2 separate regions of the Homo sapiens genome follow, and region 1 is linked to region 2. A link means that fine-mapping ties the variant in region 2 to the plasma level of a protein whose gene starts in the linked region. Region 2 holds a variant in brackets. A gene starts in the other region. All regions are shown on their reverse strands.

Region 1 (17,404 bases), not on the chromosome of region 2:
GTCATCCCAATTACATGCCAGACCAGCATTTTTATAGAAAAATAATAGATAGAAAAAGGATCATAGAAAAGCTGATTTTAACATTTATATGAAAAGGCAAAGGACCTAAAATAGTCAAAACAATCTTGAGAAAGAGCAATGTTGGAGAACTCACACTACCTCACCTCAAGACTTATTACAAAGCTTTGGTAATCAAGACAATGTAGTATTGATAAGAAGACAGACAAACAGGTCAATGAGCTAGAATTGAGAGGCCAGAAATAGATCCATGCTTATAAAGCAAATTGTTTATGATAAAGGAACCAAAGCAATTTAAAAGCAAATAAAATACCTTTTAAAAATTGTACTGGAACAATTGGCTATTAAAAAATTTTTTCTTTAACTTAGACTCCTATTTGCACTTACACTCTATTTCACACCACACACAAGAACTAATTTTAAATGGCGGAAAGATCTGTGGATAGGAGTTTGAGAATCTTGAAAGATAGTCTATAGCAATAAGCATCTGCCCAAGATAGTCTATAGGAATAAGCATCTGCCTTCAGGCATTAGACCCTCACTTATCCTTAACTGGATCAGGATAACTTAGCTTAGGCTAGGACCTGGCCTTCAGCCCTTCCCCACTACTTATTAAAACATTTAAAGAGAAATCTAAATTAAAAATCCAAAATAATAATGCAATTTAAAACTACCTCAAAAAATCCAAAAATCTTTAAGATATACCATTTGAAACAAAAGTGTTAAAAGAGATAGAACAAGAATTTTATGTAAACATGATAAATATACTTAAAGAGATGTAACAAGCTATTAGTAATATGAAGAAGAATAAAAAATCATTAAAAATGAAAATATATGAGGTATAATAGCTGAAAAACTACACCAAAGGTGGGATAAAGAAAGGATAGAAACAGCTAAAGAATAAATTTGTGAATTAGAAAATCAGACAAAGAGGCAATCTCTCGGCAATCAGAAGAATAAAGAGATAGAAGATATACAAGTAAGCATATTCCTCTCTGTTCCCATTATGTAGTATCAACCCTCTCCCCTCAAGAAAAGCAGGTTACTTACCCCAACATTACTATAACTCCCTTCTGATCCACTGGCATGAGGAGTCCAAGATGGCCAGGTGGTAGACCCAGCTTCAAATTCAGTAGAATCCTCACTTTGCTGGTGGAGACATAGCCCTTACTGGGAACGATGTTCTCTAACCTAACAGAGCCTAAGGTTAGAAGACAGGAAGAACAAATTTCACAAATAGGTCACTGGGGATGATCATGTAGGGATCACTTCTATTTCCTTGGTTACCAGACCTGTTTTCTAACCATTAAGGATAGAGCATCATGTATCAGTCCTTATTTCAATGCATATACCCCAAAATTGAGGATCATGCTCTAACCTTCAGAATGTGTTCTCGGAGAGGGCCACTTAGCTGAGCCTTTAAGCCCATTGCATCATTCAGCTAGGCCAGCTGCTTCTGGGTGATGGGATATATGGTGGAACCAGTGAATCCTGTAATCATTGTTGTATGTCCTTTGCAGCAAAATTGGTCCCCTATTTGAGGAAATGTTGTGAGATCCCATATTGATAGATCAGGCATGCTGAAGTGTTGAATCATACTTGGTGTAGATGTAACCTCTGGTAAGGACAAATTGCTGCTGTTTTCCTCAATTGAGGGGTTAGCATCAGTCTCTGAGGCTGACATTCAGCACTGGCTAGATAAGCCCTTTGTGAACTGAATCCCATTCTGTTAGGTGTTTGCATACTTCTATTCCTGCCACCGTTGAATGCCAAATTGCACTGGTACTGCAATAACCAGGAAGAAATGTTGGCTGACATCCACAGGTTTACTCATCCTGTCCACCTGATGGTTGAGATCCCCTTCTGCAAAAGAGGCTTGCTGGGCATCACCACAAGACAGACAGATCTGCATGCTTGGTGCCCACCAACTATAGGGCCCACATATCTCTTTCCCCTGCCTCCTTGTCCTCACTCTTCCCATTCTGGTCCTTCCAGGCCCTGAACAAACTAGCCAAATCATTCGCCACTACCTATTGCTACCTAAGGTCACTTTTCCTTCCATACAAAGTGGACAATCAAGTGTGCTGCTCGAAGCTCTGCCCAAAGCTCTATATAGAGATTTTATACAAGTGATAAAGAAGATTATGGGAGGTAGCCTAAAACCCCTCCCAAGACAGTCCTGTGACCACCACTGTTCCTCTCTAAACTAATACTATTTCTTCAAAGCATTCATTAGTAGTGGAATCTCCTAAAAGAAAAAAGCCCATAGCAGCTTAGAGGGAAATGAAAATAGGGTGAACTGGGAAGGCAGAATGTTATTGAGCATTCAGACATTGGAGGGATAACTCTTCCCCAAACAAAAATGAGACCTTCAAAAAGCATCAATTTAGTGTTTGATTTAATACAATTTTCTTCCATTTGTAATGATTTCATGTGCATTTGTGTCATCTCTTTAAGCAGTGTTTCCATCCCTTTGGAGTCAGGAAGTATATCTTACTCCTCCCTGTATCCACCTTTCTCAGTTCCCATCACAGGGCTAGGATCACAGCAGCTACTCACCTTAGTATTAAATAGTTTGGAATTGACTGATCCTCACTTAGGCAGTCCAGGGCTCTCTCTCTCAATTCTGTCATGATCATGCTGCCTTGACTATTGATGCCCATGCTTCCTCCTATAAACCACCCTTCAAGGTTTTCAAATCCCTACTCATGAGTCTGTCTACCTTTTATTTCAATACTGAGCAGCCATCCTCAACCAAGGTCATTTTAATACCAAGGTCCATGTCCATCACAGGGGTGCCCATCTCTGGATGGCAACTCCAGTCTTGTTTGCTTGTCTCTCTCACACCATTTCTGTTTACTGACTGTTGAAGGAAGAGGCTGCGAGAGCTCCCTATCCCCACATGGCCTGATAATAGAAATGAGTTATTCCACTGGCTGTCAAAATACTAAATCTTCCCTTCATGGATCCAAAACTGGGCTTAGACACTCCTCTACTGTGCTCTCCACTGTTCAGATTCTACCATTGAGGACCTCCTGGAGAATCTGGAATCCCCAACTCTGACATGAAGTCCACAGACTACTTGTCAGTAACCCCCAGGGCATGGTTTCTATGGACCTAAGTTTGTGTCAGTCCGAAGATCAACTTTGTCCCCAGAATGTCTCTCTCGTGTTCCCCTCTGGGTCTTACTGAGATTAATGAGCAGTCCAGTTCTGCTATTTACTAGTTGAGTGATCTTCAGTGAGTTAATCTCTCTGGGATTTTCTTTCCTGAGCTGGCATAGGAAAAGACTCATTTGTATTTCACAGGGTTATGATAAGAACTAAGTGACATAAGGAGTATGTGTTGCTTTGCACAGTGTCTGCTATTTGGTTGCCACTAATTAATAAGCATTGTTATTATAATTCTAGTAATATTGTTATGTACTCCTTTCATACTATAATACCTTCACCACCCATACAGACCATTTTTCTGGCTTTAAAATTGTTTCTCTGCCACCCATCTCTTTTCTACTCTTCCTACTCCTACATACAGTTGTTTAGTGGAGTTGATTTGTTATCATTTTTTTCAATGAAATTATACTACACACTCTGGCAAGTTTTGAAATGCCCCTCCAACATTTTCCCTTGTCTTGCACACCATCCCCTTCACTATTCACTTTGTGATTAACAAAATATTACAAAAAAAGTATAGTATATGACAATGATGTCACCTCTCAAAATGACCAGAAAGTATACATTCATTCACACTAACATGTCTATTTTTTCTGACTCACAGGGCTGTGTTTTAATGACAGATTCATATCCCAAAATTGGGGTAACACCAAAAACACAACCTAATAAGCTATGCCACACAGTGCATTAGGAACAGGCTAATAGATGTTGCCAAGAAGAAACAAGAAGAGAAATGCTCACTGCCTCTCAATATGCAGTAAACAAAAAGCCAAAGTGCTTTACATTTTTCAGTAGAAAGGTCATAAGAATGGGTTAGCCTTGGTATGGTATGACAACTGGTAGTTCCTGCCAAAGGAGATAGTCAAAGAAGCAACGTTAATTTTAATATCAATTACAGATTGATATTAAATAAATGTCAAGGTGCTAAACTACTGTGCCACCTCGCACCACTTGTGATTCAGGAATTATGTTCGTGGCTCTGGTCATGACATGCCCCTCCTCAAGAACCTTCAACTGCCCCCCACTGCCCACAGGACTGACCCCAAATTCCTAAACCAGTTTTTCTAGGCCCTTCACAAGCACACCTGGGCCCTCTGACCAGGTGCATGTTCTTACAGTCTTCTCTGTTTCACGTGCTTCGTTGAAATCCCACCATCTTCCAAGGCTCTGCTTCAATACCAGACTCTCCATTCCTACCTCTGTGGTGGAATACCCATGTCTTCTTCAGTCAGAGCTAATTTCTCTGTCCCATGCACTTCTATATCACTTTTGTTTGTTCCTCTGTTGTAGAACTTACTCTATTTTTCCCTGATTTCAAATGTTTAGATATGCAGCTTTGGTTAAGCCACCAATTCTCACTGAGCATAGTGTGCGGCCATGAGAAATGAACTCAGTAATGCTGTTGACCATCTTCAAAATGGATTTCAAAAACCAGCAGCACAATATGAGTGTAAAATAGAATCATGACTCAATGATTACCCTGTGAATAAATGAACATTTCAGTGATTCCACAGATGATCATTCTCAGTTACATCACTTGGTTGAAACAGGCCAATGAGGCCTTAAAATGCCAGTTAACCCTGAATTGTATAATTCAAATCGATAAATTTATATTAAATGAATCACATTTCATTTTATGTTAAGCAAATCACGAATAAACCTGTTTTGTTTTTTTAAAAAATAACAGGTTAAAATCCCAGCTACTCGGGAGGCTGAGGCAGGAGAATCGCTTGAACCTGGGAGGCAGAGGTTGCAGTGAGCTGAGATCTCGCTACTGCAGTCCAGCCTGGGCAACAGAGGGAGACTCCATCTCAAAAATAAAATAAAATAAAATAACGGGTTAAATCAGCCTGTTATTTTAAAACAGCCCCATCACCATGACTAGAACAGCTAACTCTGGCCAAAGAACCCCAACATGTAGTATGTCCTAGCAAGAATAGATGAGTAGATCAGCATAAATCCATTCACACTGAATGGATTTTCCTACAAAATAGGGTTCTCATTAGAAAGCAGAGAAGTATATAGGTCAGGAGATTGCCCAAGCAAGGTGTGGGAGGATGGAGTCCTTTGTGGAATCAGACAACAGGTGTGGAGGAGTAAGGATGAAAGTGACTAGAAGAATAGCAAAGCTCTCAAGGATTTTATACATTACATGCATTTTCTAGATGAAAGGCTATTCAAAATTTTACAAAGGTCAAATCAGAGCACCTTCATAAGCCAGGTTCCTCTGTTGCCTATGACTTCGGACTTCCCTACAGTGATCTGCTGCTTAATGATGGGCAAAGAACAGGACTAGCTTTGAGCAAATTATGAGGGATGCCAGCTTAGAGTCTGCTCCCCTTCCTTTTTCTGTTTTCACTTTCCTCTAGAGCTGCCCCCTGTATTTACTAACCTTTGAAAGACAGAACCCACCTGCATTCTTCTAAGGGCTTTTCTCCCCAACCAATTATGCAAATTGGAGCGAATCAGACAACCTTAGTCACACACGTGTATATAAATAGCTAATAGAGGTGGTGCATATGACATCTCTCCTGAGAGAAAAGCCTTAAGGCTAAGAGATTAATTTCCAATTATGAAATTGCAACCATCCAGGAATTGGGCAGGGAGAACTCTCCCATGACATCCCCCGCCCCTTCCCTGCCAAGAACACCTTAAAGGCATAAAGCACTTGCTGCCTGCTTGGCCTGTTCATAAAGATTCACACTTACCAAAGAATTCCTTGGTGCAACCTCAAGCTACAAAATTGTTGCAAAGAATATTTACATTTACATTTTAAGTGCAAATACCTAGAGTGGAAAAATGTATTTTTGATCTGGATAGAGGACAATATTTTTAGGTCCTCCCCCACTGCTAGTAAATTTACAGAATTACAATACCCATAAGGAGCCAATAAGTTTTTAAATAGTGATGTTAAACTAAGTATGTTCAGGCATCTAAGGGGTGTTATGTGCTTTACAAAGAACTGAGAATGTGGTTTTAACAAAATGTTTTCACCCCATATACCACAAACACATGTGCAGTTTCGTATTTGGCTCCTGAGAATATGTCTTACAAAATAGGCCTCAAACCAACACCAAAAGATGACTATCTCTCCTGCTATATGACTGCATCCTGCACTGAGTTAGTTATTCAACAAATGACATTCAGTTATGGCCTAGAAAATATTTGTAGTAGAGACGGGGTTTTACCATGTTGGCCAGGCTGGTCTCGAACTCCTGACTTTGTGATTCGCAAAATATAAAAATTTAGCCTGGTGTGGTGGCGCGTGTCCGTAATCCCAGCTACTCGGGAGGTTGAGGCAGGAGAATTGCTTGAATCTGGGAGGCAGAGGTTGCAGTGAGCCAAGATCACACCACGGCACTCCAGCCTGGGCGACAGAGCAAGACTCTATCCCAAAAAAAAAAAAAAAGAAAAGAAAAAGAAAAAGAAAGAAAGAAAGAAAAGAAAAAGAAAATAATTGTTTAGCCTTGTTTTGGTTTTACTTCATAGTTTCCTGACTTCATTCATGAGGGAAAAGGAATGACACCCAGCAGAGCAGGCCCCGTGGAGCTCCTGCACTTGCAAGCACTCACACCCTGCAGGAAGAACTGGTATACACCCGTACACACAGGAAAGGCCACTGAGAGTCAAACACCACCAGCACCAATTTGTGAACTTTGGTGAGGTGTGAGGTATTATCGCAGGGTAGGGTTTATTTATTGTTGCTGCTGTTTACTGAGGTATAATTTCCACACAGTAAAATTAAACATTTTTAGGCACATAGTTCTCTGAATATTGACAAACTTAGTGATGTGACTACAAAAGCAATCAAAATTCTATCACATAAAAAAATTCTTTGTGCCCCTTTCTAGCCAATCCCCTCCCCTCACCCCTAGTCCTTGGCAAATGCTGATTTGGTTTCTATTTCCATTGTTGCCCTTTCTAGAATATCATATAAACAGAATCACACAGTGTATGGCCATTTGTGTCTGGCTTCGTTCACCTAGAAAAACGCTTTTGAGATTCATCCATGTTGTTGCATGCATGAGTTCTGTATTCCTTCTTACTGCCAAACAGTACTGCATTTACGGACACACTACAATTTGTTTATTCACTAGTTGAGGGACATTTGGATGGTTTCTAGCTTTACATGATTATGAATAAAGCTGCTGTAAAAAGTTGTTGACCGGTTTTTCAGTGGACGTCTGTCTTCATTTCTCTTAGATAAATACTCAGGAGTGAGATTCCTGGGTTGTATGTCACGTGTATATTTAACTTTATAAGAAACTTCAAAACTGACTTCCATAGTGGAAGTCCATTCCCACCAGCAGTGTATGATAGTCCAGCAATATATTATAGCTCTGAATCCTTGTCAGTATCAGATGTTGTCAGTTACCTTGATTTGAGCCATTTTATTAGTAATCCATCAACTTTTGATCTAGGCTGGGCCATAAAATTAAACTTTCTGCTAGCTATATATACTGGGTTGAATAAGTGTCCTTCCGAAATACACATTCACCCGGAACCTCAGAATGTGACCTTATTTGGAAGTAGGATCTTTGCATATGTAATTAAATTTAGATGAAGCCATACTGGGCTGAAGAGGGCCTTAATCCCAATGACTGGTGTTCTTATAAGAAGGCCACGTGACACAGGGACACACAGAGTAGAGCATCCTGTGACAGGAGAGGCAGAGATTGGAGCTAGGCTGCAGCAAGCCAAGGAATACCAGAATCCCCAGCAGCTGTTAGGGCCAAGCAAGGATTCTTCTCAGAGTCTCGGAGAGAGCATGGCCCTGAATACATCTTGATTTCAGACTTCTGACCTCCAGAACTATGTGAGAATACATTTCTGTTTGTCGTAAGTCACCCAGTTTGTGATAATTTGTTAAGGCAGTCCTAGAACTAAAACACTATGAATACAATTTACAGAATACAACAATACAAATAGGTTTATATTTGACTTATATAAAGCTTTCTGAGGATAAAAGCATAATAATTGCTTCTACAAAATTCATTCTAATTAGTTCAAGCATATCACTAGAAGCCTAATTTATTAATATGCATAAAAATTCTTGGGCTAAGTTTTTGACTATTCTATAATTCAACATTTCACTCATTGGACTGAACTTCTGCTAATGAGTCAAGATTAGTGAAGACCACTGTTTATCATGAATTAAGAGCAGTGCAGAAGCAGAATCCCAGTGGTTCCTATCTATGGCCATTGAATATGTGAGACCCACATTTTGCAGAATGTTCTACAAAGGATTAAAAGATGAACTTTCTTTTAGTTTAGTCATTTGTGGTATAATGTACTGGAATGCACCTTTAAAATTTTTTAATTGTAAAATTATGTGTTTATTTTTCCTATCATGAAGTCTAGTTCTGAAAAACAAGACTTCTGTGGTAGAGCCAGTTCTGGTTGTTTCTTAAAGAACAGATCCCTTTTCAGTTTTAGCACAAAGCTCTTCCAGCCCCTGACGAAGAAAATTGTCCCTCTCTCAACCTGTATTAGACTTCCTTGGGGAGGCAGAGGGATCTCCCTCCCCACCTGACCCCAAAACCTTTGAAAGAAAGAAGTTGGTTATTCTGTTACACTATTATTCAATTAGAATTCCACTAATTTAATAACAGAGAATAAAAGAATAGTTACAGTCAATAGCAGGTTGTGGTTTCTGCTGCTAAAACTTTCTGAAAACCTATTGCAAATAGACAGATACTGAGGCAACAATAAGACAGGAGGGCAGGTGCAGATGTGGGAGCAGGAATCTCATGTTTTACATTCATTCCTCTATACTATGTAAACCAGACTTTCTCCCCATGAACAACATAAGGTAATAGCAAGCCTATCAGGTGAACATTAGATATCATTATATGGACTTCTGGGAGGAATCTGGCAGTCTTATGAGCACTTTTCTGTGTTGTGCACTGTGGTTACCAGCTGTACCATGCCTATTTCACAGGAATAGCTGGTGAATATAATCATAACTTCCATAAAATTTGCAGAGCAAAGCAGGTTGTCATCCAAACAGAGTCCAACAATGTTCAGTGATCCGAACAAAAGTCAGGCCCATTTTCACCACTCCTGCTCTCTGATAAGCGTACATTGTCCTTTGAGTGTTTTGGGAGAGCACAGAGTTGACCTATTCTGGGGGACAAGGACTTACAAGATTGGACCACTCTGTTCCAAGTTTGGGCAATTTCAAAGGACAGGGCTTTGGGGAATTGGAACAACTTGTTCAACTTCATTGTGTTTGGGTCTCACTAAACATAGAAACCAGCCTCCCTCTTAATCCCCATCCCACGTGTTGAAAACCATAAACTCAAGTTACCACGAATAAAAGGCCATGGAAGAGTGCCCAGATGCCCTTCGGGATGGGATGACCCAGTTAGGAGGTAACAATGTTTGGGGTTGAGATTGTCCCTCTATTAGAAGCAGACAGAGAAAAAGCTATGACCAAAATGTTTGCATGGCTTAATTAAATATCAACAGATATCTCTATTCACTTTAAAGCTCCAGCACACCAGACAAGGGATCCGAGCTCCGGGCAGGAGCCAAAACCACCATTGCAGATATGCTCCCAGTTTTACCAGCTAATTAGATGTTAAACTTACATTGTAACAATCAACCTGATATTATTGCCTACTGCAGATAGAACTAGAATTCTAATTAGGTCAGAATTCTAGCTGGGATTGTGTAGATGGACAAATTCTTTCAGGGTAGTTTGATATCACTGCTATAATTTATGGTAAAGACAGTTGGGATCATACTGGCAAACTAAGTACCTGCCTACACTCCCTCAGGCCTAAAAATGCCATTGATTATCCCAAAAAAACTGAGAAAATAATCCACTACAGTACGGAAAAAGACAAAATAGGGGCACTAACACACAAGAAGCACTGAAGGCTTTCTGAAAGAGTAATCAGGCCTGATGTTTGTAGTTTTAATGTTTACTTTGCAAACAAAGGTAGAAACAGAGTCTGGAGCTCGGATGCCACCACCAGAGAGGGTGGCTGTTCAGCCTCTCTCCTGTGCAAATTAACCTAATTCTGAACCTGTCTTGGTTTAATTCGCACAATTTCAGGTGCCATGCTAGGTACACCACAAATATACCTCAGGGACCTCAATTGCAAAAACCTGGACTGCAAACGTTGGGGCTGCAGAGTTGACTAGGTTAATAAATTCTTTCTGAGGTAAAGCAGATAACACCCACTAATAAAAAGAATGAAACTTCATCGTCCCATTGGCATCCTCGGGTGTGCAGGTGTTCCTCAGAGCAAAGCCCATGGTGTGCCCCATCGCCAATTCGTGACAAGGCAGGGGGCGGGGGGCGGGGGAAGGAAAAAAGCCTGGGATAAGAAATCAGAGAATACAAGTCGCTTTTAAACAAAAAACAGTGACTGTTAGAGTACACCCACCATTGGGGTAACACGCAATAATCTCTCAGCATCACTGACTCCAGCACAGCTGGTCCCCTGGAAAAGGCACGTTGCCGGAAGGTTTTGTGTGTGACCAAGCAATTGGCCATCCCACGCCTTCGCCCTACCAGATGGGTCCCTGCCCCCGGGAGTCCCCTCCCCCTCCACCCTCCAAACCCAGGCAGCGCCCGCCCCTGCCCCCGCTGATTGACAGGCCGTGCAGCTACTCCTGGGAGCCTGGCTTTCGGGGGCAACCCAGGCAGAAGTGACTATCTCTGCAGCAGCCAATAGAAGCCAGGAGGCGGGGCGGGGAAGCGGCGCGGTCAGGTGCTCCGCTCCAGAGTTGAGCGCAGGTGAGCTCCTGCGCGTTCCGGGGGCGTTCCTCCAGTCACCCTCCCGCCGTTACCCGCGGCGCGCCCGAGGGAGTCTCCTCCAGACCCTCCCTCCCGTTGCTCCAAACTAATACGGACTGAACGGATCGCTGCGAGGGTGAGTCCAGGGGCGTGGGTGGCTTCCCTCCCGGGAACCCACACTGCTCCTCTGGGTCCCTAAAGCAACGTCCCCTCCTTGCCACTGCACATCTAAGAAGCCCAGGCCTCGGTGGGCGGGATGACTGGGAATTGGGAACATAACCTACGCCGCGACCATTCTGGGTGGCTAGGATGGAATCCTGGTGGAGAAGATGGACACCCCCGCCCTTGACGTCTACCCGAGCTACACAAACCTACTCCTTCTGCACTTTCCCTCTTCCGTTTAATCGGTGCCCCGTCCTTCCTGCTCTCCAAGTCTGTTTGTGGAGGAAGGGTTGGAGGGGAGAAAGAACTGGAAAGTACTCAATGAAATGTGGAGCCAGATCCAGGGATTCCACTGTTTTGTGCAGCATTTTGTGCACGAAAAAAAAAAAAATTCTGATTGTTTTCATTCCCCACCCCCCACCTCTGTTTATTGCTCTGTGTCATGGATGTGATGTTGAGTCTTCTTGCCAAACATTCCTAAGCTTTAGACAACACTTAATCTTTGCTTACTTTTGTTGGTCCCAAGAAAGCAGTTTTCTCCTGCTTACACATGTGCCGAATTAATTTGCTAAGATAGATGAAAATGAGGTGTTCCATGTAGTTTATTTCCTCTGCTTTTAGCCTTAAATTACATTTGGTTGATACTAGCCTTCCTTGTTTTAAAAAGGTGGGAGAGAAAATTAGGGGGAGAAAGGACAGAGAGAGCAACTACCATCCATAGCCAGATAGGTGAGTAAATATATTTGCAGTAACCTATTTGCTATTCCTTGCTGCAACTGTGTTTAATGTTCCTTCCAGAATCAGAGAGAGTATTGCCATCCAAGAAATCGTTTTTAAATATGACATTTGAGCTATCATCTTGAGACCAATACCTAAAACAATTTCAGTTTAAGAAATGTCTAGGTATGGTGAAAACACAGTTTAAAACCAGCAAAACAGAATTTATTGCCCTCAGCGAATACCCACAATGTACATATACCTTGTATTTCTGAAAGCAAAGCAAGCATGCCAAGTAGTTTTTATTTACCTGTACCTATAATACAGCAAGGTGAAACAGGATATATTTTTGAAGTTTAAAAATGTCTTCAGGCCGGCTGCGGTGGCTCATGCCTGTAATCCCAGCACTTTGGGGAGCCGAGAAGGGTGAATCACCTGAGGTCAGCAGTTTTGAGACCAGGCTGGCCAACATGGCGAAACCCTGTCTCTACTGAAAATACAAAAATTAGCTGGGTGTGGTGGCGGGCGCCTGTAGTCCCAGCTACTTGGGAGACTGAGGCAGGAGAATTGCTTGAACACGGAAGGCGGAAGTTGCAGTAAGCTGAGATCGTGCCACCGCACACCAGCTTGGGCAACAGAGTGAGACTCCCTCTCAAAAAAAAAAAAAAAAGAAGTCTTCAGCTTAGGAAGATATCAAAAGGCAGTTTCAAGAGATTTATTTGTACAAGTGTGGTTTGATCTAAGTTTTGGTGGGTTTATAAATACCTTCATGCAGGAATGGGTAGAAAAATGAGAGAACAAAAGATCCCTGCTGGATGTGCACGCCTGATGAAAACTGACAAAATTTACATATCTATTGTTTATCCATACAGCGTCTTATTAGCTTTCTTCAATAGAATGAAAGTATTTTAGAAATATACACAGATTAGGGGAAAAGACCAGCAACCTTGATTCACAGAGCTTTAAACCAGGGAAGTGCTTTTACTACACCTATCAATGATAAGATTAAATTTTGACAAATTTTAACATTAGGAAAGTCAACAACAAATTTCAGAATTATATTTCTGTTAATATTTAGTTTAGAATCTAATTATTTAGTTCAACGAATGCTGTGATTTGATTATTAATAAATGAATGCAGATTACTTTTCAATAAATATATCTGGATGTCACAAATGTTATTTCACTTCAAGAAACCAAATTCATCTATTTTCCTCTCTCTTTAGTAATACATCTTTTGTCTGTGATTAACCAAACATAGGGGTTGAAAATAGAAGTGTGCATATACATATATATATAATATATATGTATATGCACCATTATTCGATTTGCTAATGATACTTCATTGTTGCTAGGTTGCCATAGTTGCTCTAGCCATAATGTTAAGGATGTTCACAGGTATTTGACTATAAAAAAGTTTCTGACCAGAAGTCAAAAGTCTGGATCAACCTGAAAATGTTTCTAAAAGTTTTATGTAAATGATGTCATATTTTAAAATGCTGTTGAAGAGCTCACTTAAATAATTCCTTTGAGGGATATTTAGATAAATTCTCAGAAGTGAAAAAGTTGTTTAAATGCAGCTAAACTTATTAGCTTTATTATTCATTTAGCCCCAGGTCTCTTATCTAATACGGAGTTCTGTGACATAATTCTTCCAGGCTGTGATTTATGAATATAACTAGGATTGCTAAGCACTGTTACTCTGAGTTTGGGGTAAAGTATACAAAACAAAATTATTGCCTTTAATTTCTATATGTTTATTCTACAGATTATCTTACACTGAACTGATCAAGTACTTTGAAAATGACTTCGAAATTTCTCTTGGTGTCCTTCATACTTGCTGCACTGAGTCTTTCAACCACCTTTTCTCTCCAACCAGACCAGCAAAAGGTTCTACTAGTTTCTTTTGATGGATTCCGTTGGGATTACTTATATAAAGTTCCAACGCCCCATTTTCATTATATTATGAAATATGGTGTTCACGTGAAGCAAGTTACTAATGTTTTTATTACAAAAACCTACCCTAACCATTATACTTTGGTAACTGGCCTCTTTGCAGAGAATCATGGGATTGTTGCAAATGATATGTTTGATCCTATTCGGAACAAATCTTTCTCCTTGGATCACATGAATATTTATGATTCCAAGTTTTGGGAAGAAGCGACACCAATATGGATCACAAACCAGAGGGCAGGACATACTAGTGGTGCAGCCATGTGGCCCGGAACAGATGTAAAAATACATAAGCGCTTTCCTACTCATTACATGCCTTACAATGAGTCAGTTTCATTTGAAGATAGAGTTGCCAAAATTATTGAATGGTTTACGTCAAAAGAGCCCATAAATCTTGGTCTTCTCTATTGGGAAGACCCTGATGACATGGGCCACCATTTGGGACCTGACAGTCCGCTCATGGGGCCTGTCATTTCAGATATTGACAAGAAGTTAGGATATCTCATACAAATGCTGAAAAAGGCAAAGTTGTGGAACACTCTGAACCTAATCATCACAAGTGATCATGGAATGACGCAGTGCTCTGAGGAAAGGTTAATAGAACTTGACCAGTACCTGGATAAAGACCACTATACCCTGATTGATCAATCTCCAGTAGCAGCCATCTTGCCAAAAGAAGGTAAGGCTGACTGAATGAATGGTGAGCTGAGACTAGATGTGCATTTGCCCAGTGTGATCAAATGAACAGGGATTTCTGTTGCTGCGCCTTTAAAGTAGACTTTGCCTGTGTCATGGTAATATTCTGGGATTTAATCCTCAGACTCTGAAAAGACAAAATCTCTTTTTTCAAAGCCTAATTTTTTTTTCCTTTTTCCTAGAATACTGAAATTGATGTGCTCTATGTATGTATGGCAGTAGGTTTTAACCATTTTGGATCCATAGAATATTATGAAAGCTATAGCCTCCCTTCTCAGAAAAATTGAGATGGAAAGATACATACAAAACTTGAATGCATGTACAGTTATTTCATAGAAGCCCCAAAGCCTTTTATAGGTTCCTAATTTGGACCTGCTTAACAAGGAAGCTGTGGAAGATAAGAAGGAGAAAGAGCTTTGGTCAATCTGAGGTTTATTTTCCTTATAAATGTGGAAAGTAATAACAATACCTTAAACTTTTTACAAACCTCTCCTGGAATCCTTATACCAAACCTGTCACCTCAGTATTGTCTCCATTTTAAAGAGAAGTAAATGACAGGTAAGTGACCTCAAAAGGTTTAACATCCTGAGGTCACAAAATAAGTGACAACATGACTCAGACATGCTCTTTGACATATTTTATCACTTTGCAGGGTTGGTCTTAGGTATCAAATGAGAGAACAGATTTTGAAAAGCTATAATATTTCACAAATGAGAATTCCATCCCTCAGAGGGGAATTAGAATCATATGAAACAGCGAATGTTAAAATATGTGTGTGTTTTACACACACAGTTTTCAGCAAACAGCACTTTTTTTCTGGTTTAAGAAAATTAGCTAGGAGTGGTTGCTCACGCCTATAATCTCAGCACTTTGGGAGGCTGAGGCAGCAGGGTCACTTGAGGCCAGGAGTTTGAGGCCAGCCTGGGCAACATAGCAAGACTCTGTTGCTAAAAAAAAAAAAAAAAAAAATAGCCTGGTGTGGTGACACATGCCTGTGTCCCAGGCTGAGGTGGAAGGGTTGCTTGAGCCCAGGAGTTCTAGGTTACAGTGAGCTATGATCATATCACTGCACTCCTCCTTGGGCGACAGGGAGACACAGTCGAAAGAAAAAAAAGAAAGAAAAAGAGAGACTGAGGGGGAAAGAGAGAGAGAGAGGGAGGGAAGAGAAGGGGGTGAAAGAGAGAGAGAGGAGGGAGGGAAGGAGGAAGGGAAGAGGGAAGGGAAGAGGAAATGGAAGGGGAGAAAATTACATTAACCCTTCGATTTCCTTTATAAAATTGGAATGATGTCCTCTTGTTGCGGTGCAGAAGATAAGGATGCAACCTCAGCAATGGATTTGAAAAACAGGAGGATGAAAGACAGTGCCTGGGTAACCGCATTTGTAGTTATAGGGAGTACTTTGGCAACACCTCCAGTGTTTTCAGATGTTTCCATTTTACAAACTGCTTTCCACCTCCAGCCTCTTTTCCCAGCCCTCACCCACCCCTCACCATGTTTTCTTGTCTGGAGATTCTTCGTGTCTGCACTCACAACTACCAGAACCTAGCCATTTTTATTTGGGTATTGCAGTACCCTAGACATTTTACATAGTGTCACTAATTAATATGTGTGTGTATTGAAGTCTTTAGAGGTTTCTGGTTCTATAAAATGCCCTTCCTTAATTCTATAAGGTGAACTTACAACAGAAGATTATTTCCTAGTTTCCCCTCCCAAAATTGTTTTCCCCAAGGGGAAAAAGAATTTTTTCTTATGTTCAGCTCTCTGGTTTTTCACCTCCGTAGCAAGTCTGTTGCCCATGGCTGATGGTAGCTATGAGTATTTTGTTCTGAGTGCCTCTCCTCCCTTCTCTTTAGGTAAATTTGATGAAGTCTATGAAGCACTAACTCACGCTCATCCTAATCTTACTGTTTACAAAAAAGAAGACGTTCCAGAAAGGTGGCATTACAAATACAACAGTCGAATTCAACCAATCATAGCAGTGGCTGATGAAGGGTGGCACATTTTACAGAATAAGTCAGATGACTTTCTGTGTGAGTATGTTACAGTATTTCTTTCCATTCTGCATTACTTTTTGCTAAAATACAACAGTTTAAATACATAATACAGCAGTTTATTGATTGATATTTTTACTGTCTGTTACTTGAATATTAAGGAACTACAATGTTTTCGTACTTATCTAAAAATGCTTTTTTTAGATATTGGTCCTTGATATGTAAAAGATATATACAAAATGTCCCTTTAGGTAGAATTGGGTTTCTATCATGTTTATTGATTAAAAGAAAAGCAGATGCCTGAACAATGGCATTTGTAGTGTGCTCGTGACTCATAGTGGCAGATGTATACAGATACATGGTTTCTGGTTCTTAAAACGGTTTTTGGCCAGGTGCGGTGGCTCTCGCCTGTAATCCCAGCACTTTGGGAGGCTGAGGCGGGTGGATCACGAGGTCAGGAGATCGAGACCATCCTGGCTAACAGGGTGAAACCCCGTCTCTACTAAAAAAATACAAAAAATTAGCCTGGCATGGTGGTGGGCGCCTGTAGTCCCAGCTACTCGGGAGGCTGAGGCAGGAGAATGGCGTGAACCTGGGAGGCGGAGCTTGCAGTGAGCCGAGATCGTGCCACTGCACTCCAGCCTGGGCGACAGAGCAAGACTCTGTCTCAAAAAAAAAAAAAGCAAAAAAAAAAAAATAAACAGTTTTTACATACAGATAATGATCCATAAACCAATGTTCATATTTTTATGTCTTGTGCAGGTAGCTCTTATGTTAGAGGGCTTGCTCAACAAAGGACTGCTATCTTTGGCAAGATTTGTATTTTAAAGTTAATATAAATTCAAAGGGCCCTCTAGAAATGGTTTGCTGAACTACAGTTACACAATAGATTGGTCACCTCTATTTTTGATAGAAAACCTTAATAATACTCAATTTATATTATGT
Region 2 (11,128 bases):
ACCAGAAATAGCATGCTAGGAAAAGCATGGATAGTTAACAACCAACAAATATTTGTTAGAAAATTACTGTGTAAAAACTGCAGTGAACCTCTCAGCCTTGTGTGTCAGTAGCTTTAACTACTTCCTCAACCAATTTTGTTGTCAAATTGCCCAGAATGACAGTTAAAAGGATTGGTTAGAGAATTACCTGCTCTATGTTTCTCTCTCTTTTTTAAAGTTGTTAACTAGTAATTACATATCTCAAACTGTAGAAGTACACAGAAAAGAAAAAGATAGCAAATCCTTTTACTAAGCTCTGATTAAATGAGTATTTAGAATATCTAACCAGAATATTCAAAATAAAATTCTACAGGAATGGTATAAATTAGTAAAGAATAATTCAGATAATAATTGAAAATAGTTAATAATTTATTTAATTTAGATTTCAGACACTTTTAATTCTAATAGCATCTGCCCTGGCATTAGACCAACCTGAGTTGAAATTTTGCCCTCTGTATTTACTAGGTATGACCTTAAGCAAGTTTTCATTTTTATTGTTTTAATAAACAGTTTTGTGCCTTGGCTTTCTTATCAGTAAACAGGGATAATGACATTATTTAACTTCTAGAGTTGCTCTAAGAACTAAATGAAATAATACATGTAGCAGTGCTTAGCACAGTGCCTGCCTGGTACTTTCTAAGCATCTAGTAAAAATTATCTATGTATCTTTTCAACCATCTCTTCAACATCCATCCATCCTTCCATCCATCCATCCATCCATCCATCCATCCATCCATCCATCCATCCATCATCTGCCCATTGGTTCATTCATTTATCCATCTTTTTTTATGTTTCTGACAACATAAATTGATTATTTTGGGAGGCTTTCTTTGCCAGGGAATATGCAGAACTTTTAAAATATGAGGTGAATTTATTGTCCAGAGTGTGTGCAAAGAGGAGACACCCCCAGAAACCAGTTTATTTTAAGTCCTTTTTCATGGCTACTTTTTTCTGGTTGAAGATAACACCCTAAATTTATTTCTGCCTATTAATTCAATAATATTTAAATAATTGGGAAGTATTTACTGAGTGTTTCTTTTCACAAAACATTGTTCTAGGTATTGTGGGAATGCAGAGAAAGCTAGGATTTTGTTCTCACCCTTGAGAAGTTTGTAATGCGGTTGGGGTTACTTAGAAAATATAATGATATTATACATTTTTAAAAGATTATGTGAGGTAATATCCATTAAGTGTTGAATGAGTGATATAAAAAGTAATTTCTCACAGATCTTATTAGAGGTGTTTAGAAGAGGGGTAGATCGTAGTTAACTGGAATAGTCTCAGTTGGTTTCCTAACACTAAGAAAGGAAAGTGAGGAAAATAGGGAGAGACAGGCAGAGCAAAGGCTAGGAGGCAACAATAAGTGAAGTTTGACTGGTGAAGATAAATGTATAAAGATTGGTTGTATCTGGATGGAGGGCCTCAAGTGCCAGGGTCAGGAGTTTGGACTTTATTTTGTCATCAGGGGAGAGCCACTGATGTTTTTTGATCAGGAGAGTGGCTTGATGAAGGGAGTAGCAGTTAAGATTGATTTGGTGGAGGAGATACTAAAATAGAGAAAGTAGTTTAGGGTCTGTTGTAAGAGTTTAGGTATGAGGTGTGAAAAAGCCCTGTGCTAAGGTGATTATAAGTATGGTAAGAGAGATGAGCATAAGAAACATTAAAGAATAGCTGATGGAGCTTCATGACTGGCTGGCATTGAGAAGCAAGGATAAAAATGAGGAGGTGGATAGAGTGTTCATGTTTTGAACCTTGATGATTCTGACAGTGGTACTCTTCTGGGTGTGGATGAATGAGGGGAGGTATTGAGGAAAATAGTGATGAATCTAGTTTTAAGGTGTTTAATATGAAATTGCAGAGCATATCTTGGTATAAATACTTAACAGTCATTTGAGGACTGTTGGATTTCTGGGAGATGAGAGAGTTTAGTGTTGGGGATATGGATATAATAATCTTATGACTTAATGAGATGCTTGATAAAAACAGTATAGAGAAATAATAATGTTTAGATTGGCAGTATTAACATGGAGTGGTATTTTCTGTGATTATCTATTCACTTTAATTTAAAACAATAAGCTATTTGCCTATCTCTCCCTCTCTGCCTTTTCCTCCCTCATTCCCATAGTATTGATTGTCTACGATGTGTTGTGCACTGTGCTGGGCACTGGGGATCCAGCAATGAACAAGACAGATGATCCCTGTCCTCATGAAATATACAGAATTAACTTGTTTTTTAATTAAACAAAATATTTTAATGAGTTCTCCTTTTACCCATTTACCATGAGCTTATGCTATGTAAGCATTTATCTCCCAGGGTCTGAAAGATGTTCTCTGACAAGAAGTTTCCTTTTCTTCCTCTCGTTGATACTTTTTATTTTAGTATATTGTAATAAATACTCTGTAGGAGTATAATTTCAGGAATTGATTAAATTACTCATCATCGAAGTTTAGGAAATACTGATTGCAATCCCCTTTGCCTGGGAGGTTTTTATTGTGCTGAGCTTATAAGAAGTGTCTCTTGGAAAAAATTGTATTATATTATTTGAAAGTTCTAAGAACAAGGAAAAAGATGTTTTTCTAAAACCGTCTTATTTCTTACACCCAGACACTTCTCTTAATGATGTTAAGTTTATCTCAAATCAAAATAAAACGTGCAGCTAGAGACTGGACTTCCCCTTTCTCCTGTCGCTTGCTATCCTTGTTTTCCTTCTGATTTAGCCACCGATGTTCAACCAATGTCTTCATCTCATTCTTTCCTCTACTCCTTCGTAATAAAATAGAGGAATGGAGAAAGAGGAACACAATGCAAGACTGAGGAACACCAGTTGAGACTGATACCAGATGAAAGCATTATTCTAATGTCTGGATTTGTATTCTAAGATTCAAGCTCAGGAGAGCCTATGCTCTTGATGAGCCTCAATTCATTTCACTGTCACCCTGGTGTAGTCAGTGCCTCCCCCTTTTTTGCTAAACTGGTCTATTTTTGTGTTAAATGATCATAAATGATGTTATTTAGAACAGAAGTATCTGTTCTAAAATTGGAATGGAATATTAGGCATATCAGGCATTAGCTATAGGAAATATTTCAAAAATGAAATGGTTAAAATGGGAATATCAGGCATTAGCTGTAGGAAATATTGGTAAAATGGCATATCAGGCATATGGTAAAAATGGAATGTCAGGCATATCAGGCATTAGCTGTAGGAAATATTTTCTTTCTTGCTTGCTTTCCCTTCCTTCCCTTCCTTCCTTCCTTCCTTCCTTCCTTCCTTCCTTCCTTCCTTCTTCCTTCCTTCCTTCCTTCCTTCCTTCCTTCCTTCCTTCCTCCCTCCCTCCCTCTCTTTCTTCTGTTTTCTTTCCTCTTCTTATTTATTTATTTATTTTTTTGACAGAGCCTTGCTCTGTCACCCAGGCTAGAGTGCAATGGCACGCTCTTGGCTCACTGCAACCTCCACCTCCCAGGTTCAAGCAATTCTCCTGCCTCAACTTCCTGCAGAGCTGGGATTACAGGCGCGCACCGCCATGGGTGGCTAATTTTCATATTTTTAGTAGAGACAGGTTTCACCTTGTTGGCCAGGCTGGTCTCAAACTCCTGACCTCAAGTGATCCACCTGCCTTAGCTTCCCAAAGTGCTGGGATTACAGGCATGAGCCACCTCAGCAGGCCTAGCTGTAGGACATATTTTCTGATAAAAATGACATTATTGATGGAAAAAGCCCCTATATTTAGAGTATTTGGAGAATGATTAGAGTTTTTGCTGTATTAGAAGGAATGATATAAATTTGAATGTCTTAAATCTTGAGTTAGTTATGAAATAAAATCACTTTTCTAAGAGAGCTTTTAAAATGCAGTTTGTTTGGAGCATTATCTATATTAATTATATTCATTTTAATTTGTATCTTAGGAATCTTTGGAGTGCGGGAGAACCATGTCAAATTTTCAGTCCTTTAATATTAATTTAGCTTCAGGTTACTGAGATCACTTTGGTAGTGAGCCAATATGGTCACCAAATTTGGATGAGAATTCTAGATGCTGAGTGTCTGAAAAACAGTTGTGGATATGTGTCCTATGCTTGGTTATTTTTCTAAACTTGTGTAGAGATATTAAATCACTTTCATGAGATGAATTTTCAGCATCAAAAATATAAGCTACTTTAGAAGACGAAAACGAAGCGTAACTCTCTGTTAAAGAAAAATTAAGACAAAAGCTTTTGAAGTTGAATCCTGCCTGTCCTTTTCAACCTTCAGGAAGGTTGCTAGGCTAGAAAGACATCTCTAAAAACAAAGTTTTTATAATGGAAAATGCGCTGACATACCCTTTAATGATATAGGTTCAAATGGCAGTGATATAATTTGTAGGTCTTTGTGCTTGGAAATGTCTGGAAAGTTGTAGTGCTCTTATTAATATTTGTAGTCACTTTTTATGAATTAGTATTTCTTGTTGTTTTTCATTTTTATTTAATTTAAGATGAATAAATCTTATTATTAAATAACATGAAGATTGCATCATAGCCTTCAGGATTAAAATGCACTCCTTTTTTGGGGAAGAAGATAGATGTGTTTCCTCTGTTGAAAAATTTAGATTTGATATTTTGTTTTCTTCATGGTAATTATGTTTGCACTTTGCTGATCACTAGTTGTGCATTATTACAATGGAAGGTGACAATTTGATTGTCTTCAATTGGAGAAACAAGTAATTTTATATTCACTAAGCTGTCAGGTAACACTAACTCACAGTACTAAGAGCTCCTGGCAATGCAGCTTGGCACCTATATTTAACTGCTTTGATGCTTGTGTAACCTCTGCTGAATCAGAAGTACTTTGCCTGCTGGAAATGATTTTCAGGCTTGTACAATGAGGTTTTCATTAAGTAGACAAACTGAAAATGAACTGCAAAGCCATGGTTGTTTTTCTCCTCCCCTTTTACCTTCTCCCCTTTTCCCCTCCTCTTCCCCTCCCTTTCTACTCTCACTCCCTTCCTCCCTCCCTCTTCTTTCTCTTCTTCTTGTCTGTCTTTGAATAGGAACCTGAAACTTATACCTTATTTCATCACATGAAAGAGTGGACTTGGTAGATTGCCTTATTTAGCTAAAGGAGGACCTCAGAGATTAGTTTCTTTATATAAATTTGTTCAGTGTTTGTGTGAATTTTCATATTTTGAAACAATCTAAAGTATCAATATTCATTTTTCTCTTTTTTTCTGGAAATATTGAAGAGGGAAATTCGAGTTAAGGATGGAAAAGTATACAGTGACAATTTCCTACACTTTGTCTCTGAGAAGTTATTGTTCTGGTTTATGATTTTTATTAATATAATTGGATAAGATATCCTGTACTTGGGCTTCCATATTAATGGGCCAGTTTCACGCTGACAGAGAGATGTCTGTTTATTCACTTAAAAAATTGTAGTTCTCATTTTATATGAAGAGGAAATTCAAAGTGAACTTACATAAATAAATTCATTCTGCTATTATTTTAGACAGCTTTCTTTCACTCCAGCCACACAGAGGTCTTTCGTTGAGCTATAAAGTCATTGTGCTAGATTAAAATCCTCTAAGTTAGTGTATATTTATAGTAGCCATTGTTAGGTTTTACTCTTATTGTTAAGTCACTGAATTTATTTATAAAATCTGGGCCTGGCTTTCCAAAGCAAAAATTCCAAAAAGTTATTGGTAGATAAACTGTGAGAAGACCATATTATTTATATCAAGCAAAAAGTATAGATAGAGGTTACATGAAGTCAAGTTGTTTTGATCCCAGGAAGAAACCAGATACTCAGGGACACTTAATAATTATAGGTTTTCCATAGGCAGTCAGTCAGCAGGCCAGTCATTAGGCTGGCTGCCTGTCTCTTCCAGCAGATACTAACCAATTAGACAGAGGTAGTTACGTGATGTAACATTATCAGGAGAAACAATTCATGAGTCAAAGCATTCCAAGACATATGAGCTCTAGTCCAAAGAACAGTCTTAAGCTACATAAAGTGACAGCAATATTGTCAGCTAAATATAAACTCTAGAAACACAAACTTTGATGACTTAAGAAGAATCTGTT[C/T]CAGGTAGTTCTTGTTTTGTAAGAAGCTCAGAGGGCCTTTGGAGACAATTTTGGTGCTTTGCTGTGAAAAATTGGACCCTTAGAAAAGTCAGAATCCATTAATTTAAGCACTTTCTTAGACACACTTCAAGGGCTTCAAATGTATTTCATTTACCTCATCTCCATTGATTTGACAGCTAATTCTAATCAGTGAGTTTTCTTCTAATAGTTACTGTCCTCATGTGTTACCATATCTGTTCTGAAAGTGCTGCTACAAACTCTAGAAGATAGGTTTATAACTTTCCAAGGTAATTCTGAAAACAGTTACCTTCTTTTCACCTGAATTTTCTTAATTACTTAATGGAAGAAATAGAAAAATCTGGCAGAAGCAGAGGGAAGTTTGGAGGTGGATTGGGGGAGAGGAGGTGGTGGTGTTGTATAAAGTAATACAAATAATTAGTAAGCACCTTCCGACTTTACTGGAATGAATTGAGGAATGTTTTAAAAGGAATGTCTTCATTTTAATGTCTAGAATTAGGATGTACCATGCCATCCTCCCTTCCCCAAGATCCTTGAATGTGGAAATTAGAGATAGAAGAAGAGGGTTTTAAAATCATTCTTTGCCCTAGGCTGGGTGGACTGGTGTCCTTTGTAGAGGTTCCTGGGTATTGTGCATTTTGGCAACTAAACATATCTGTTACTCATGTTCCTTAAGATGAGAGGCACTGTGATATATTTTTGGAAAATTAGTTGTTTATTTCTCAATATCAGCTCAAGTACAGCATTATATTAACAGTGAATTATCTGATGAAATGAGTCTACCTTGGTAGCCTGGGGCTGAGCTGCAAAAATAAATGGGAATGTTGGCCTGAAGTTTTAATTTTTTTGAATAAGTAGAACAACTCTTAAAATGTTGCTTTATGTTAAAAACAGGACTTTTTTTGAATAAATGTAACACACCTGGAAAGTGAATGCCATTTGATAATAATCATAAAAATAATGGAAATATTTTCAAAAATTCAGTTAAATATATTGCTATGATGAATTCAGTGGCTCTTTTTGATAATTATGTAAGCTTCAAATGACAGTTTTGAAAGATGGATACTTTTCAAGCTATAATAAAAAAATGTAATTTTGAGTGATTATGCCTTATGAGAAAGTTTAAAAGTTTGAAGTTGTTTAAAAATAATCCTGACTTTAAACACATAAAAATAACTGTTTTTAAAGAATAATGTCAAATCAGAAAAGTTCTAGAAAATATGATATTCTGAGATAGAAGACTTAATGTGCACATATCCAGCATTCTCATCATTTTATAAAGTCTTGGGCCAACTAATTTTGATTTATTGTTGCAGAACAGAAAATAAATTTACTGTCTGAGTAAGTTTGTAGTAGGCCAAACATTCAGACTTTGTACTGGTGTTTTGGAGTAAAATAATTATGACCTTTCTAGAGGTGTTCGTACTGACTTCCTAGAGAACATTCTCAGTAACTGGAGGCTTTATCTCCAGCAATCTCATTTCCAAAAGTCCTAAGCCCGAAGTTCTTCCCAATGGCCTGGCATCCTGGGAGTTCACTTGATTGTTGGGCAGAGACATTTTAAACTCAGGGAACATATGATGGGAATTTAGTTTTATGTGTCCCAAAGATATATAATTCTCTTTGAAGGTTTTACTTGATAATAGTTATGCCCCAGAAAACCATCTTGTTTAACCAATGTGATAAGTTGACAATGTAGTTTTTCTCTCTGATTATAATGTACTCTGTGTAGTCAATACACTGGTACCATGTGAGTGTAATTTCCTCTTTTATTTTATCTCCAATGCACTGTATTATAAATAAACAGTTAAAAAAAACACCAAACAAATCTGTTGCATCTCCTTTTAAGATTGTACCACTGTAGACACTTGTTCTAGTAAAGTAGAATTGGGCGCATTTGATTGCATTTAAATTTTTCATGCTTCAGCAGTTTGGCTGGGAGCACAGTAAAGAAAAATCCCATGAGCGAGGATAGTTTAGAATAATAGAACTTGATTTTGTGTATTATAGCGGCAACATTTGCGCTGCTTTAGTTAGGGTTGTGTCAGCACTTCCATTATAAACCCCTGTTTTCAGGGGGTATAACTAGGGAGATTTTTTTTTAATACAAATTAAAAAAACAATTCATTTGAATGATTTTTAAGTTATAATAGTGCAAAAATAAAACAAAGTAAAGTCACATCGAAATTGACCATTTCCACAAGGATTTTGATTTTCTTTTACTTATTAGTCATATAAGGCAGCAGCTAAAGTAAGGTGCTGTTTTAATATGTTGGGGATGAAAATTTTTGCAATGGAAAATTACTGACTGAGCATTAAAATAAATGTAAGCATTCCACATGACATTTTAAAACACTGAAACATGGGTATATTTGATTTATGAGTTTCTAAAGGAGAGTAACTATGGTACAGTGGTTATAGTAAAGGCATTACCAAAAGTCAAGTGCCATTGAAGCTTCTAGAATACAGTTTGGTTGGTTGAGTAAAATGTTTTAAAGGGGAAAGCTAAAGAAATGAATGAGATGTCATCAGGATTATTTAATAAAGTATTTATGCAAAAAATCAGTGAATCAGATCTAATAATCAGCAAATCTAAAGTTTATTTAATAAACTGCATTAAAAACAATTTGTGCACATTTTATAACAAAACTCAAAACTGCCACCCAAAACAAAAATCAACAACAAGACCAAATGTAAAAAAAAGATGTAAACAAAAAAACCCCAACAATTCTACCAAAAGGAAATGCTCAAGGAAATACCTTGCTAAAAACAAAACCCATCTTTTTCACCACTAGCAATGCATTTGAGAACTATAATAAAGTAAAAACAAGAAATTATATGATTTGGAAAAGTATTTTTGGAACAAAAAATGTTAATTCCTTTGCTAAGGAAAGGGATTTCAAAACTGAGTGTGTTTTTCTTGATTGTTAACCGTTGTTGTCCTACCTCCCCTGTCTCCTTTTCCTCTAACGATAGTGTGAACTGAGAATGAACACTCAGATTTAATATTGCTTTTTTTGGCAGCTTGTGTTTTATTTGCAACCTTGATACACATATGTATTTGTAGATGCAAAATAAAAGACAAATTGTGAGATGTTATAAATAGGTAGCATTCCTGAATGGCCACTGGAGGAATCACCAGAAGACTGTTGATGAAGTAGAGGTGAAGCCTTTCCTCACTAATTGTATTCAGCGTGTAATTTCTAAACTTCCCTCTGAATTTTGATTTTCAATTAACACTCCCCATTTGAAGATAATTTTCTATTTAATGTAATTGCAGGAAATAATTTATTGGCTGATTAAGACTGAGGACCCAGCCTTCCTTAAGAAAACATTCTAACAAACCATCCTTTAAACTCAACTCATAGATTTAGTCTATTTTTACAGCTGCAGAGTTGTATTTAATTAGGATTGTGCACTATTGTTCACTGGTGCAGTTTATAGTTGAAATTATTCTTAAGAGACTGTTTTCATTTTGAGTTTTGTCATGATTAATTTAAACTGAAGCAACAATCATAGACATTGCTATTGGAAGGAGCCAATTCACTTTATAATAAGAGGATGTTTGTTGAGGGAAGTAAAGTCACTCTGATTTTTGGATCATGACTTTCAATTGTATTGAACTATTTTAAAAAGCAGAAGTACATTCATTCTTTTGTTTTTAATGTGAATGATTATTGATATTGTCAGTATCTGAAATAGGAAATCACCCTTGTTTGTGGCAAGCTCTTGATAAACTTGCAGAACAATTATAATTTGCCTGGTTTTACTAATAGTAGTTATGGGGCCGGTAAAGTAAGCCATACAGCAATTCTCTTATACTAAGAAGCATCCATTGGCTACCATTTTTCATAATTGTGTATATGTTTGTCCATTTGTTATTATTGATATAAATTGATCAAGAATATATCTGATTTATTGATATAGCACTCTTTAGAACATTTAATTCATTTCTTCTCAAAGAAATTATAGGCATTCTTTTGCATTCCCTTTCCCCCATTTTATTTTCTAGTATCAAATTTAATAGATACAATTTTTGTTACTTGTAGAATGATTATTATAAATTGGTATCAGCATTTTAATATGTTTCAAAGCACTTCAAAAGCCTGTAATACTTTTATTTTGAACTGCGCATAATTAGATTAGCTGATCTTATATTAATTTTTTTCACTGTAGGATACTAAATCTGAGCCCCCTCATTAATTGTGAGAAATTTAGCATTAGCTGTTAAATCCTATGTGAAACATGGGCTGCTACATAAAAACTACTGTTTAAATTGGAATTAACTTAATTATTTTTCTTTGCACTTGATATTTCCTTCACTGCAATATTCATGAAAGCGTGTGACAGATTTGTAAATTTAACTGTTAATCTCAGATTTCTAGACCCTTTAATCAGTATTTATTTGTCTGTAGAAACAGTACTAGCAAGTTAATGATTTGCTAATTTGAAAAATGCTCATGTGGTTTCCTATGTTAACTGATTTGTGCATTTTTTAAAAAATGGTATGAAATCAATTAATGTTAAATAGCAATTAAGGTGGAGATTTTATTCCTTTCATTACACAGCAGTTTTAGAGCTAAAGATGTAATAAACTAAAAACAATGTAAAGTTTTAGAAAAGTGCTCAATTCCCTCTTCTGTTAAGTTATACACTTTCAGTGGTTTTATTTTCTAACCATTTTGCCAAGAAATTCATCTTAATAAAATGATATTCTAAACATTTTGAAATTCTATTTAATAATCATGGTTTTCTGATTTTATATGAGAGCACAGAATGGAGACGTTGTCATGTAGCGTGTAGTCAATGTTTATTTGTGGGCATATAAATGAATGTTCAATATTGTATTTGGAGGTTTTAAATATTATGCACAGTAGGCATTTTACTATTTTCATGGTAAATGCTTCGAATCTTGTATATACTTCCTAATATAAAATAGAGGTATAGCTATTTCAGATACTTAATTCAAATGCTACAAAATTGCCCTAAAACTAATCTAACAGTATCAGCCACTCAATC

Alleles and levels. Positions count from the first base shown, and alleles are read on the strand shown. Strength reflects both the effect of a copy and how common the allele is.
As copies of T replace C in region 2, the plasma level of the protein whose gene starts at base 10,905 in region 1 goes up (weak association).

The links. PIP is the posterior inclusion probability: the model's chance that the variant is causal. Protein levels are from antibody-based Olink assays in UK Biobank. Linkage for the fine-mapping came from a reference panel and not from the study's own genotypes, which makes the PIPs less certain.
Region 1: ENPP5 starts here. The variant in region 2 is fine-mapped to the plasma level of the ENPP5 protein (UK Biobank, PIP 0.99).

Annotation. Positions count from the first base shown.
Region 1 is chr6:46,164,481-46,181,884 of GRCh38, reverse strand. It overlaps ENPP5 (ectonucleotide pyrophosphatase/phosphodiesterase family member 5), which reads left to right and starts at 10,905. Exons shown (of 5, transcript NM_001290072.2): 1 at 10,905-11,077; 2 at 11,771-11,832; 3 at 13,588-14,451; 4 at 16,322-16,498. The coding sequence starts at 13,623. RefSeq lists a silencer at 10,674-10,733.
Region 2 is chr11:16,341,912-16,353,039 of GRCh38, reverse strand. All of the region lies in intron 1 of SOX6 (SRY-box transcription factor 6), which reads left to right. Among named protein-coding and RNA genes, the nearest start is that of SOX6, 9.1 kb to the left of the region's middle. The variant C/T (reference allele first, on the strand shown) is at 6,092.